Regions from separate parts of the Homo sapiens genome. Here region 2 is linked to region 1. The links come from fine-mapping of genetic effects on gene expression. Tissue or cell type: whole blood. Region 1 holds a variant in brackets; the other region holds the start of a gene. All regions are shown on one strand. Distances are between the middles of the regions.

Evidence for each region. PIP is the estimated chance that this variant, and not a neighbour inherited with it, causes the effect.
Region 2: it holds the start of ZC3H7A, and the variant in region 1 is fine-mapped to the expression of ZC3H7A in whole blood (INTERVAL, PIP 0.94).

What each region holds. Positions count from the first base shown.
Region 1 is chr16:11,673,738-11,681,614 of GRCh38, forward strand. It overlaps SNN (stannin), which reads left to right. Exons shown (of 2, transcript NM_003498.6): 2 at 2,238-5,415. The coding sequence starts at 2,323. The coding sequence ends at 2,589. It overlaps TXNDC11 (thioredoxin domain containing 11), which reads right to left. Exons shown (of 12, transcript NM_015914.7): 12 at 5,346-6,100. The coding sequence ends at 5,458. Among named protein-coding and RNA genes, the nearest start is that of SNN, 9.2 kb to the left of the region's middle. RefSeq lists an enhancer at 7,482-7,838. The variant G/A (reference allele first, on the strand shown) is at 3,385.
Region 2 is chr16:11,795,511-11,801,795 of GRCh38, forward strand. It overlaps ZC3H7A (zinc finger CCCH-type containing 7A), which reads right to left and starts at 1,748. Exons shown (of 23, transcript NM_014153.4): 1 at 1,614-1,748. RefSeq lists silencers at 980-1,139, 1,622-2,031 and an enhancer at 1,447-1,984.

The DNA of each region.
Region 1 (7,877 bases):
TAGGAGGGTTCGTTGCGGGGGTCAGCGTGGCTGGCGAGCAGGGCATATTGGGGATGTGTAGTGTTCGGTCCTGCAGGTCATTGTGAGGACTTGGAAGGCGTCCTGGCTGCAGTGGCCCCTGAGGGTGGGCAGGGAGATCCTTAGCGCCTGCGGCAGCCTGTCTCCTGGAGTCAGGGGGAAGGCAGTGGAATGGAGGGAGGGCACCTCCTCTGCCCAGGGCCCTCTGCAGAAGCTGCCGGTTTCCCCGGGCCTGGTCCCTGGACAGACGCTGGGGGCGTTGACTTAGCTGCCTTTGTCCTTCAGGCAAACCTGGCTTCTGGGGAAACTCCTGGTTGGGTAAGAATCATTTCTCCTTAAGGGTGCTGTTCCTCAAGGACGCAGCAGGTTCGACCCTATTTGGAGGGAAAACCTCCTTCCAGTGCTGTCTGCCTGTGCTGATGTCAGTCTTATCCAAAGGGAACAAAAAGCCAGACGTGTCGTTCTGAGTGCCGACCGCACGCCCAGTCCTGTGTAGAACGCGTCTCGGGCCTGTCCTCATCCTCACTGACCCCGGGTGCAGCCAGCGTTTGCTCTGTTTGTGGCGAGCGAGGCAGGAGAGGGAAGAAAGTGCAGGGTCTTGGGACTCCAGAGAACCTGCCAGCCTCAGCACTGCGGGGCAGCAGAGGCAAAGCCCTGGCCTCAGCATGCTCTCACTGGCTGTGCCTTGGGTGTCACCTAGAGGGTTGACAGGGTGCCTGGAGCTGGGGACTCTTAGACCTTATGTGCATTCCATAGCCACACTGTCCTCCGCCACTTGGCAGGCCCACCCATGGGTGAACTCCGTGGCTCGGCCAGGTGGAGGTGGTGGTCCCAGCCCTCCAACTTCTGGCGTCATTCTTTCAACATGTGGAGCACAGGCTTGGCCTGGCCTGGGAGGGGCCTCATCCCCGCTCCCACCCAAATCAGCTGGTGCCCCGACTCCTGGCACTTGCCAGGGGGACCCTCTCTGCCTTCAGAGCCTTAGCCCTCACCGTGCCCCCTGCCAGGAACACTATTCCCCATCAGCACCGCCTCCCTGCCTCCCACCTGCCCACCCAGGTTAGCATCTTGGCACCTGGTTGCTGTGTTCCTGACAATGGCACCCTGTATTGTGAGTGACCGGCATTTGGGGTACTAACCAGTTACAGTCTGGCGCCTGCATTAGATGCTAAGCACCATCAGGGAGGGAGCCTCTGTCTCACCCTCCCTGCCTCCCCGAAGCTTTCCCAAGTGCCTGTCTCCATCTCCCGGGACACTCTACCCTGTTGCTTCCTTGGTTGGCCTCCGTCCAAACCACACAAGGGACTCTACCGCCCAGCTTCCTTCTCAGATGGTGTGCCGCGTTCCAGGGGTCTTCCCAGGCCCGATGCAGTGCCTGGTGACAAAGGCTGTTGTCCAGTACACCCTCTCACAGGTGTCCCCAAAGGACCTGCCTGTTCTGTATATGATGTCTGTTTGGGAGAGGGACTGATGTCATTGTCATTTCTTTTTCTTTTTTTTTTCTTTTTTTTTTTTTTTTTTTGAAGAGACTCTTGCTCCTGTCGCCCAGGCTGGAGGGCTAGAGCGCAGTGGTGAGATCTCGGCTCACTGCAACCTCTGCCCCCCAGCTTCAAGCAATTCTCATGCCTTAGCCTCCCAAGTAACTGGGATTACACGCATGTGCCACCATGCCCAGCTAATTATTGTATTTTAGTAGATACGAGGTTTCACTATGTTGGCCAGGCTGGTCTCAAACTCCTGGGCTCAAGTGATCTGCCGGCCTCAGCCTTCCAAAGTGCTGGAATTACAGGCATGAGTCACTGCACCTGGCCATTTATCTGCTTTCAAACCCCCATCTCTGGCCATTAGGAGGCCCCAGTTGCCCTCAGTCCCTGAGTGGTCATGAACACTGAGTTGGGGCTGGGCTTCCCGAAGGCACACCTTCAGCTGAAGAACCAGAACCATGTCTGGCCCTCTGGCATCCTTTGCTGCAGCTGTCGCTGTCGCAGTGTTCCCGGCTCTGCCGCCAGCGAGGGTGACTCACCTGCCTGGTACAGCAGCACTCGGGGTTTCAAAGGTCATGAACAGGAGCTGGGTGAGCGTGGGTGAGCAGACGCCTTCGAACGCCGGCCAGCATGCTTTTTGTCAGGGTGAGGGTGGGATGGGCAGGTCTGAGAACGATTAAAAATAGACCCCGTGGAAGTGCTAACCGCAGCTCGTCAACCTGCTTTGTCTTTCAGGACTCCCGTGTCCAGCCTGAGTTCCAGCCTCACTGAGTGGCCACCCCCAAAGTGCTGCCAGCCGAGGAAGCCCCCAGCACTGACCATGTCTATTATGGACCACAGCCCCACCACGGGCGTGGTCACAGTCATCGTCATCCTCATTGCCATCGCGGCCCTGGGGGCCTTGATCCTGGGCTGCTGGTGCTACCTGCGGCTGCAGCGCATCAGCCAGTCAGAGGACGAGGAGAGCATCGTGGGGGATGGGGAGACCAAGGAACCCTTCCTGCTGGTGCAGTATTCGGCCAAGGGACCGTGCGTGGAGAGAAAGGCCAAGCTGATGACTCCCAACGGCCCGGAAGTCCACGGCTGAGCCAGGATGCAAGGCTCCTGGTCCTGTTTGCAGCCGGCCAAGAGGCGCTGGGAGGGGCAAAACCATACGGATGCGCTGCTGTCTGAGAGGAAGGGCTGACACTTGCTGGCATGGCCTCTGCGGGCTTCGTCATCGCATGCACTGATGCCCGGGGACCTGGCTGTCCTGGGCTTCCCCTCGGCCTCCAGGTGAGGCTGCCCATTGCAGGCACTGGGCAGGCCTGACCTTGCTGGGGCTCATGGCCCTGTAGCGCTTTTGTTACTTGAATGTCTAGCTGAGCCTGTTTTTGATGGAGCTACTACTGTAATGCGTGAACTAACAAACCTGTGAACTGTAAATAGGCCCCTGGAAGCACGTGCTTAAGCCCTTTTGCTGATTTTTAAAAATATCATCTAGCGCACACGGGACTGGTATTCTGGCTGTACTAATGACAAGCTGAGTCAAGACCCTGGAGGGTCATAGGCTTGTAAAGGCCCACGCCACACTCGGCAGGGGTCTCTCATGTGTGTCCATCTGCGTGTATGTCAAGGAAGTGAGATGCCAATTTGGGGTCTTGAGGCTGACCAGTTGGGGTGCTTGGGTGATCTCTGCTTCATTAGTCATGGGTGGAAGAAAAACCACACCCCCCGCACCCCTCCGTTCTTTCTGCATAGACTCACTTGTTAAATAGCAGTTCTGTTGAGAGTGGAGTTACTGCAGGGAAGCTACCGGACCTGCCTGGGAGCCAGTGAAGGGCGAGTCAGGGCACGCGTCCTGGAGGCTGCCAGCGTCCTTGTAGCAGAGCAGTTTCTTGCC[G/A]CTTGGGTCTTCAGCACGCCAAGCCCCCCACCAACCCTCCACCCCGAGTGAAGGCTTCGCTGAAATTGCTTTGGTCCTCATAGAGCCTGTGGTGGCTACTTTTGGTCTGAAACCCACTTGGCCCAGGAAAGAGAAAAGGTTGTATGTTTTGTGTTGGTGTTTCCTATTTTCTGCACTGGAGGGGAGGGGACTGTTGAGGTTCTGTCTTTTTTCTTCTTTTCCTCTTCCCTCTTCACATCACTTGGCTTCCTTTCCTCTCTGATGACCGTCCGCCTATGGGGTTCTGACTTCACTTTCCTCAGCGGGTCTCCAGTCCCCTGACCCAGCTCTAAAGGCACTTAGGACCCAGGGAACATTTCTCACGTGCACATTCCCCTAAGAGCCACCAGACTGCTTCCTGCCAGCCTGTGCTTGCGGCAGGGAGCCGGGGCAGGGCAGAGGTGAACTTGAAGTTCAGGACTTGACTCTCCCACAGGTGGTGAGCTGGTGGCTCTCTGGTGAGCTAGTGTCTCCACAGCCTGTCTCCAAGGCCTCCCCTATGTACATTTCAGTGAGCTCACTTTGATTTTTAATCCCACCACAAGCACATACTAATTTTATTTATGATTCAAATGTGACTCGTGCCTGCCCATCCCTGTAATAGATGGAAGGTCAGCCCCGGCTTAACCACAGAGCACTGGCCCTTCATGGCTGAGCTCAGAGCTCTGGCCTCCTGCTCAGACTAAAGGCACCTCCTCTGGCCTCACCCAAGCCTCTTCTAAAAACCATGTTGAATGAATCCACGTTCTGGAACCCCGAGGCGGGAGAAGTAGGGAGCTGTTCGTTTAAGCAGCATACACCTAAATTGGGGGTTTAAACATTAAGTAGGAGCTTGGGGTGGAAGAGGGACAGCCGGCTGGGCCACCTGAGCAGAAGGTGGTAATGAAACACCTCAGCTGGGCTCTTGGGAGACCTTAGGAAGCAGGAGAGGCAACACCTCTGGCTACTGATGGTGTGGCAAGTTCAGAAGAGGTGGTGGTGGGGTAGGCGTGATGTCAGCAGAAGCCCTGCAGGCTGGGTGGGCAGGACACGTGGTGGGGGCCACTGAAACCAGGCCTAGGAGGGAGAACAAGTTCCAAAGGTGCCGACTGGAAGAAGGGGGTAAAAGTTTGCTTTGGTGAGTGAGAAAAGGCTGGGGCGTGTGATCCATCCCCTCACGTTTCAGAACTTCCAGGCTTTCTACCTCGACTCTCACCACAGCCAGCACATACACCTAGGCTGTTTTTCCTTCCTCCACACCTGAGGGACGCAGCAACAGCTAGGATCTGCATTTTCAGGTTCCGAGCCTGACCCCTGGAACTGACCAGCGCTCGATTGTCAGCCTTGGCCTGGGGTTTTGACCTTGCCAGTGAAGTTTCGGTTTTGAAGTGATTAAATGTCACTTCCTCATCAGTTTCACTTCTGGAGGTTTTCTTATCCTACTCCCTGGTGCCAGGGACGTACCTGGGAGTTTGAATCAGGCCCATTTGAGCGTGGCAGCCGTGTTGGGTGAAGGTCCGGGGCTCGGTGAGGCACTGGGGGGGTTTTCGGGAGGAAAATGAAAATGCTTCTAGAATGAGTGAACCACATCATAGCTCTCACTGTTTTTTCAATAGCTACTTTTTTTAGCAGACACCAGAGCCACACTCAAATGGCTAAGTAGGTTATGACCTCTCTGGATTATTTTTGAATGCCCAACTGTTGCATTCAAGTTTTCTGACTAATAAGAAATTAAGCATTCATCCTTCGTATCACTGCAGAAGCAACAGTGGGGGCACAGGGAGGGAACTCTTGACACTGAGCCACTAAAATATGGACTAATTTTTTGGACAAATCTTCAAACGGACTGTGCTACTGTATTTGTCTCAAAGCTACCAAGTTTGTGCAATAAGTGGAAGGGATGTCATCCTTCTTCAATAAATGCTGAATGACATTCAAGCTGATTTTCTAGACCACTGAGAAAATCTTTATTTACAATAAATTTCAATAAAATTTGCATAAATATATTCCCAATGTACAATTTTCACCTCTGATTTCTTCATATCATTTAAAAAGTTAGTCTGTCCTGTTCTCCTTATTCCTTTCAGACACCAGTGTGGCGCTGACATTGGCAGGTGGAGGGGAGCTGCCAGGGAGCTGGGGGGTGGCTGAGGGCTCAGGCTGCTTGGGGTGGACCTCTCTCTGGGCCGCCAGGCTTTCAGCTCCATCCCTGCCCTCCAGTTTCCTCTCCATGGTCGCCACCAGGATCTTGAGCCACGTGTTCTCGGTAAGGAGGTTTTCTGAGGCATCGGCCAGCTCCTGCAGCTTGCGGGCCAGCTCCTGCAGCTCACGTGTCTTCTGCTCATAGAGGGCCTGCAGCTGCTCACTGTGTGCGTGGAGCAGGCTGTGCTGCTCTTCCAGGGCCCGCTGCTGCTGCCGCAGCCGGTGCTCATCTCTGCGGGCACTGGAGAGCTGGGACTCCACCTGCACTTGTGCTCGCTGGAGGCTGCTTATTTCTGCTCTCAGTTTCTGGATCTCTCTCTCCAAGTGGGAGATGTGCCCCCGCTGTAAGACTGCCTCGCTCTGAAGACACTCCTTGGTAGGAGAGTTAGCCACATTCTGGGGGCTGGAAGCAGGGTCTGAGTGATGCAAAATGAACCTCAACAGGTTTGGAAGGGTGATGGGGACGTCTTCGGGGTATTTCACACTTAGGTCCTTTCTGGAGAGAGAGGGAAAGGAAGCAAAGACAGGAGTCACACCAACACAATGAGTCCAAAAGCAGGCTGTACCTGAGGCCAGGCCATCTACTTCTCACCAAGAAAAGACGTTCCGTGGATTTTACTTACTGAAAGTAAGGAAAATGTTGCCTGGGCAAGAAATTCTCTACAAAGCTGAGGCTGTCCCATATGCTCGTTCTGTAATTAAGATGGCTTATCTGTTCCTGAAGCCAGAGCTCAGCTTCACCCACACCCTCCAAGAAAGACAAGAGCTCCTAGGCCCAGGCCTAAAGCCAGTGATGCAGGGCCCCAGGAGTGTGTAGGCATGGGGCCTCTGTGTGCTCGGAGATGCCCAGCGGCTGTGTCAGGAAGAGCGTCCAGGGGAGGCAGGAGTGTCCCACCTATGTCCCTCTTGTGCCCACTGACAGTGCCCGGAGAAAAAGGAAGAACTTGAAAGATACCCAGTCTGTTTCTTCAGCAAGCATTTATTACACATTCTCTAAGGCAGGGGTTCTCAACTGGGGGTGACTGTACCCCCATTCCCCAGGTACATCTGGCTCACACCTGGCAACCTGATAACTGGCAAACAGCCCAACCAAAGGACTATGAATTCAGGCTGCCCAGCCCTGAGAGCACAGAATAAGGAAGGAAGGTGACATAGAAAGGGGTTTTCCCTACAGCTTTGTTCCAGGTCCTGATCTAGAGATCTAGAAAATTCCTCTTCAGAACTTGTCATTTAATCGTCTGATGATGTTTCTCTCACATATCTATTTACCTGTGCCTGTACAGCCTGGCTGCAATTGATCAAAACTACCAGCTTTATGCACTTAGGTATGAGGTGGGCCGGCAGCCGAGTTTGTCTCCCTCAGGTGTTAACAGAATGGAAGTCAACAGCAGGGACTCCAGAGCCTGGCTGCCCAGGGCCACTGGACCCGGCCGTAAATTGTTTTATAATTTTGGGGTAAACATTCAACCATCCCCTCCTTTAAAGCTTAGTTTTCTTAACATATAAGCTTTCTTCAAGTGGGGCCCAGCCATTCAAATGACAAAGCTGGGTGTGGTGCTGTGTGCCTGTAATCCCAGTGCTTTGGGAGGCTGAGGTGGGAGGATCGCTTGAGGCCAGGAGTTTGAGACCAGCCTGGACAATATAGTAAGGCCTCATCTGTATAAAAAGTAAGATAAAAAAATTAGCCAGGCAAGGTGGCACACACCTGTAGATCCAGCTACTTAGGAGCCTGAGGTGGGAGGATCACTTGAGTCCAGGAGTTCAAGACTGCAGTGAGCCGTAATTGCACCACTGCACTCCAGCCTGGGCAACAGAGTCAGACCTTGTCTCAAAAACAGAAAACCAAAAAACCCCACAACAACTGAAAACACATCGTGGCCCTGTCAAGTGGGCCCATGGAAGAATACCAGACGCTGGACCTGCCCCCACGTTCTGCGGCACAAGCCTGGTCTTGTAAGGCAGAGTAAACGTGAATTACTTCCCAGAAAAAGCTGCCAAGATCCCTCAGGATGTCTACCTCCAGACATTTACAGGACAGTGACATCCGTGAGCATGCTATCTGCTAACTAAGAGGTCTTGGTGCACTCTCCATCAATGTCCCTAATGGGCACACTAAAATACTGCCACACTTTGTGAAAGTAGCAGGGACAGAGAATGTCAACAGTCTACTTCCAGGAAAGCAGTCATGTGAAACTATGGTGGGAAGAGGTCCCCATGTCTATGCAACTCTCCTCTAACCCTGAGGGAGTGGCAGGGCACACCTCTAAAAAACT
Region 2 (6,285 bases), 120 kb after region 1:
ACTGCAACCTCTGCCTCCCGGTTCAAACGATTCTCCTGCCTCAGCCTCCCCAGTAGCTGGGATTACAGGCGCCTGCCACCACGCCTGGCTGATTTTTGTATTTTTACTAGAGACGGGGTTTCTCCATGTTGGCCAGGCTGGTCTCGGAATTCCTGACCTCAGGTGATCCACACACCTCGGCCTCCCAAAGTGCTGGGATTACAGACGTTGAGCCACCCCGCCCGGCCCGTATATGTCATTTTAAATTTCCAAATAGCCACACTAAAAAAAGAGAAAAAGAAAAGCAGTGAGATTAACTTTTGTTTTTTTATTTGTTTGTTTTGAGACAGTGTCCCAGGCTGGAGCACAAAGGCACAATCTCAGCTCACCGAAGCCTCAATCTCCTGGGCTCAAGGGATTCTCCCACCCCAGCCTTCCGAGTAGCAGATTCTCCCACCTCAGCTTCCCGAGTAGCTGACTACCGGCGTGCGCCACCACGCCCAGTTAATTTTTTGTATTTTTTGTAGAGACAGGGGTCTCACTATGTTGCTGAGGCTGGTCTTGAACTCCTGCACTCAAACGATCCTCCTGCCTCAGCCTCCCAAAGTTTTGGGATGACAGGCATGAGCCACTGCATCCTGCCAAGATTAATTTTAATGATCTATTTTCGTTAATCCAATTTGTCCCAAACATGACCATCTCAACATGCATTTAAGTATAAAAGATTACCAATGACATCTTTTACTTTCTTTCTCATCCGAAGTTTTTAAAATCAGATGTACGTTTCACAGCTGGGACCGCAACTGAAACTGGCCCCATTTCGTGGGCTCCATCGTCCCAAACGGCGGGGGGTCAGTGGCCACCGTACTGGGCATGGCAAGGTCCTTCGTGGTTCAATACCGAACACGGGCAACTCCTTTTCATCCCTAGACAGGTGGGGACAGGAAAATACCCAACTCCTGGCAAATCCACCCAGTCCCGACTCAGGCTCGACCTCGGAGGCCCCGGCCGGGCCTCAGGCGGCCCCACCCCTTTGCTGCCCAGGCCTGACCGGAAGCCCCGCTAATGGGAACTGACAGGTCCCGGTCCCGGTCCTCCCGGGCGGCGCCCCCGCCTCCGCGGACCCCAAGGCCTCTCCCCGCCCGGCCCAGGGCTGCACCCCGCGCGAAAAAATAAAAAAATCAGAAAGGGGGGTAAAAAAGACGGATGAGCCCCAAATTAATGCGCCAAGCTCTCCGCCGGCATCCTTCCCGCCCCCAAGCCCAAGACGCTGAATCGGGATCCCCGCGATCACCAGAGCAGACAGAAATAACCAAAAAAAAAATTTTTTTTTAGTGAAATCACCAAAAAGGAGACATTTTGCCGAGGGAATGGCAGGCAGAAGTGGGTCACGTTATTCTCGGTGGGGGAAGGGGACGGCGCGCCCACCCGTCCCTCCGCGCGCACAGGCCCCGGCCCGGCTCCTCTCAGGGTCCTCTCGGGTCCGCGGGCCCCGGACCCCGCCGCCCCTCCCCCGCCCCGCCCGCCGTCCGTTAACGGCCGCGCGCGAGCACGAGGCGGCGGCGCGCGCGGGGGGGGCGGGGGCGCGGGCGCGCGCGTTTCCTTCATGCCCGGCGGCGTCCCCCTACCCCTACCTGTGGGGACGACGCGCCGGCCGGCGGCAGAAGGCAGGCGGAGGCGGGCGGCGGCAGGCGGGCAGCGGTGGCGGCGGCGGCGGCGGGGCCTGGGTGCTCGCTCGCAGCTCTCCCTCGGTTAGCGGCGGCGGCAGCGGCTCGGTTGCGCCCGCGGCGGCGCCCTCTAGCGGCGGGAGGCCGCGCTTGCCGCCCGGGAGACGCCGCCATTGGCTGCGCCGGAGCTACGGGCTGGGGGCGGTGGCGCCACGTCTGACTGGGGGCAGGGACCTGGGCGCGCCGTTCAATCCGGAGCCCCGGCGTCGACGCGCGGCCCACTGGGTGAGCCAATGGGAAGGCCACGTTGCGCACTGGACGCGCTCGGACTCAAGACTGATTAACCAGCACCGGGGTTTTCTGGGGCCTCGCCTGGGCCGCGGCCTGAGCAGAAGCGCTAGGAGGTAGAACAGCGTCCAGCGGGGAGAGGAGCTAGAGTCGGCATCGGGAAGCCCACCCTGGAGCCTGCTTAGCTTGACGAGCCCTCAACCGGGGCGCCCTGCTCTGCGAAGAGTAACCCTGCATCCTCAGAACAACCGTGATTGTCTTCATTCCTACATATGAGGAACGGAGGCGCGGAGCCCCACGGCAGCCGGGGATCCAAAGACAGCCTCCCTCCAGTTCCATCTGCCGGCTCTTGGAAGGCCTGGATCCCTGTCCTTCAGGGCCCAGCCCAAATGCCGCCTCGTCCATCTGCATTTTACGGCCAGGTGCCCCGCTGCGGGCACGGCTTCTTGTAAAATGCTCAGCTCAGCAGTGGGCGAGGCAGGGTCCCTGCCCCATGGGATGGAGGGCGGAGATCAGGACCCACAAGAGCCCAAAGAAGACCATTTTGGTCGGTGAAGACCAAAGAAATTCAAGCAGGAGGATGTGACAGGAGCTTTTGGGAAAGCCTCTGAGGAGGTGACAGCCATGCAACCGTGTTCGGGGAAGTGTGCCGCAGGCAGAGGGGAAATGAGTGCAAAAGCCCTGAAGCTGGAGTTCGGTGTCTGGATAACAGGAAAGGCCTGCATAGCTGATGTGTGCCAGAGGGGAGAAAGATCTGTGACACAGGGGGGCCGCCATGTTTAATTTGGAGTTTTGTGTGGAAGGGGGTCATTCATTGAGTCTGAATTGGGAGTTCCGAGGTCTCATTTATATTTTAGAAAGTTCTCTCCTGCTACTATGCAGAGATTGGGCTGTAGGAGAGACAAGAGGGGAAGTGGGGACTCTAGCTACAGTAGCTCTTCCAGGGGTCTGGGTGACGTAGATTTACAAACCAGAGTATTAGCTCAGGCTGCCATGACAAAATACCCCAGACCAGGCAGCTTAGACAACAGGAATTTATTTTCTCACAGTTTTAGAGGCTGCAAATCTAAGGTCTGGGTGCCGGCAGGGCTGGTTTCTGGTGAGGCCTCTCTCCCTGGCTTGCAAACAGCTGCCTTCTCACTGTGTCCTCCTATGACCTTTTCTCTGTGAGCAGGAATCCCTGGTGTGTCTTCCTTTTTCTTACAAGAACAACAATTTTACTAGATTAGGGCCCCACCCTATGACTTCATTTAACCCCAGTGACTACCTAAAAGGCCGTATTCAAATAGTCGTATTAGGCCAGGCGCAGTGGCTCACGCCTGTAATTCTAGCACTTTGGGAAGCCGAGGCAGATGGATTGCCTGAGCTCAGGAGTTGGAGACCAGCCTGGGCAACACAATGAGACCCCGTCTTTACTAAAATACAAAAAATTAGCCGGGCATGGCGACGTGCACATGTAATCCCAGCTACTCGGGAGGCTGAGGCAGGAGAATCGCTTGAACCTGGGAGGCAGAGGTTGCAGTGAGCTGAGATCGCGCCATTGCACTCCATATTGGGCGAGAGAGAGAGTCTGTACCAAAAAAAAAAAAAAAAGTATAAGGGTCCTATGACTTCATTTAACCCTAATGACTGCCTAATATGCCTAATAGCCATATTAGGGTTAGAGCTTCAACATACGGACTCCGGGGTGGGTATGTGCGGAGCGGGGAGCGTTTCAGTCCGTAACACCAGGTAAGTGCTGCAACAGATATTGGAGAGCTGATGGGCTGTGGTTTTAGGGAAGCTCCTCTAAGAAAGGGGTGGATTATACCGGGCGCACTGGCTCACATCTATAATCCCAGCACTTTGGGAGGCCGAGGCAGGGGGATCACGAGGTCAGAAGTTCAAGACCAGCTTGGCCAACATGGTGAAACCCTGTCTCTACTAAAAATACAAAAATTAGCCAAGCATGGAGGCAGGCGCCTGTAATCCCAGCTCCTGGGGAGGCTGAGGCAGGAGAATCACTTGAACCTGGGAGGTGGAGGTTGTGGTGAGTCGAGATCGCGCCACTGTACTCCAGCCTGGGCGACACAGCGAGACTCCGTCTCAAAACAAAATAAGAAAAAGAAAGGGGTGGATTATTCTCGTGACCAGAGGCTGCTCATCATTCAGGCCTCAACTACAGTAGCCTCTCTTGGAGAGGCCTTCACTGACAGCCCATCTAAAAGTTGCTCACTAACACAGCGCCCTATCTGATCTTCCAAGCAGTCATCATGATCTGAAATGACCTCGTCTAGTCCTGTTGCCAGAAGGCTCAGGAGGTCTCTGGATACTGGTGACACCCCAGCCCCAGCCAGTTTCCAGGTTCTTGACACCTTGGAGAGAAAGAATTCAAGAATGAGTTGAATGAAGCAAAGGGCAAGAAGGTTTTTTTTTGTTGTTTGTTGTTTTTGTTTTTTTTGAGACAGGATCTCAGTCTGTCACCCAGGCTGGAGTACAGAGGCGCAATCATGGCTCACTGCAGTCTTGATCTCCCGGGCTCGGGTGATTCCCGCCACCTCAGCTTCCTGAGCAGCTGGGACTAGTACCACACCGGCTAAGTTTTTGGGGTTTTTTTTGTTTTTGTAGAGACAGGGTTTTGCCATGTTGCCCAGGCTGGTCCCAAACTCCTGGGCTCAAGCAGTCCTCCCACCTTGACCTCCCAAAGTGCTGGCATTACAGTTGTAAGACACTGCACCGAGCTGCAAGAAGCTTTTATTGCAAAGTGAACATACACATTTAAGAGAGAAGTGCAGGCATGCCCGTGAGAATGAGTCTTGCACAATGGAGTTTGGGTTCCTAATTTTATGGGTGTTTCTTTTAGTTACAGGATGGAATTATCGTTAGGCATTCTGGAAAGGGAGGGGATTTCAGGGACCTCCACCTCAATTACTGTCTCCTTTCTTCCTTATCTGGGTTTGCTGGAAGAAGCATGGACATGTCACCCTGGCCAGAGTTTTGGCCATCTTCTCTCCCTTGGGTTTTCTGTTATCCTATGGTTTATTTGCCTAGTTCCTGTTTCAGCTGTTTGGGTTTTTCCATCCTCCTGTGACCACCCAGTGCTGTTCCTGTCTCAGGCATTTGGGCGCTTGTTTGTGGTCGGCCTCCAACCCTACAGGAGAGCAGAGACTCTGCTTTTTTTGTTTTGTTTTGTTTTTGCTTTTTGAGACAGAGTTTTGCTCTTGTTGCCCAGGCTGGAGTGCAATACATAATCTTGGCTCACTGCAACCTCTGCCTCCCAGGTTGAAGCGATTCTCCTGCCTCAGCCTCCCAAGTAGCTTGGATTACAGGCGTGCGCCGCCACCTCACCCGGCTGATTTTTGTATTTTTAGTAGAGACGGGGTTTCTCCATGTTGGTCAGGCTGGTCTTGAACTCCTGACCTCAGGTGATCCACCTACCTCGGCCTTCCAAAGTATTGGGATTACAGGCATGAGCCACCACGCCTGGCCCAAACCAGTTTCTTTTGTCCTATATTCTCAGCCCCTTGATAGTAGGTAGCACCCCTTAAATACTTCTGGAGTGGATGTCTCAAGCAAGCCTGAGGCTAAGATCTGATTAGAAGCGTGAGTAGGAGATATCCTAATGCAGTGGTGCATGTAGAAAAGAAAAAAGCCTGATGCGGTGGCTCCCGCCTGTAATCACAACACTGGGAGGCTGAGGTGGGCGGATCGCTTGAGGCCAGGAGTTCAAGACCTGCCTGGCCAACATGGCGGAACCACATCTGTACTAAAAATACAAAAATTAGCCAGGCGTTGTGGCGGGTGCCTGTAATCCCAGCTACTTGGAAGGCTGAGGCACTCATGCCACTGCACTCCAGCCTGGGTGACAGAGTGAGATTCCATCTCAAAAAAAAAAAAAAAAAAAAAAGCTCTTGTGATTGCATTGGGTCCACCTGGATAACCCAAGATGGTCTCTTCATCTCAAGATTGTAACTTAATCCCAATAGCAAACTCCCTTTTGCTAGGTAACAGGTTACTGGGGTCAGCATGTGGACATCTTTGGGGAACCATTATTCTGCCTACCACAGAGAGCAAAGTAAAGGACATCTGCGTATGGGTGTGCCTGCTTCCTGGAATCCCCATCTCCAGCCCTTGTTGAGGTGATGACACTCCCTATTCCCCCACCCCTGGTAGCACTAGGTGCTGTAGTGCTGAGGAAAATAGACTGACTCATTCCTCAGGCTTCCACTCTAGTGGGAGAAATTTTCAGTTTCTTCATTGGATATTACACTGACAAGTACACTCTCTAAGGACCTATTATGTGCCCCATGCCTGAGGGTACAAAGTTGGATAAGACAGGATTCCTGCCCTCACCCAGCCTACGGTCAGGTCA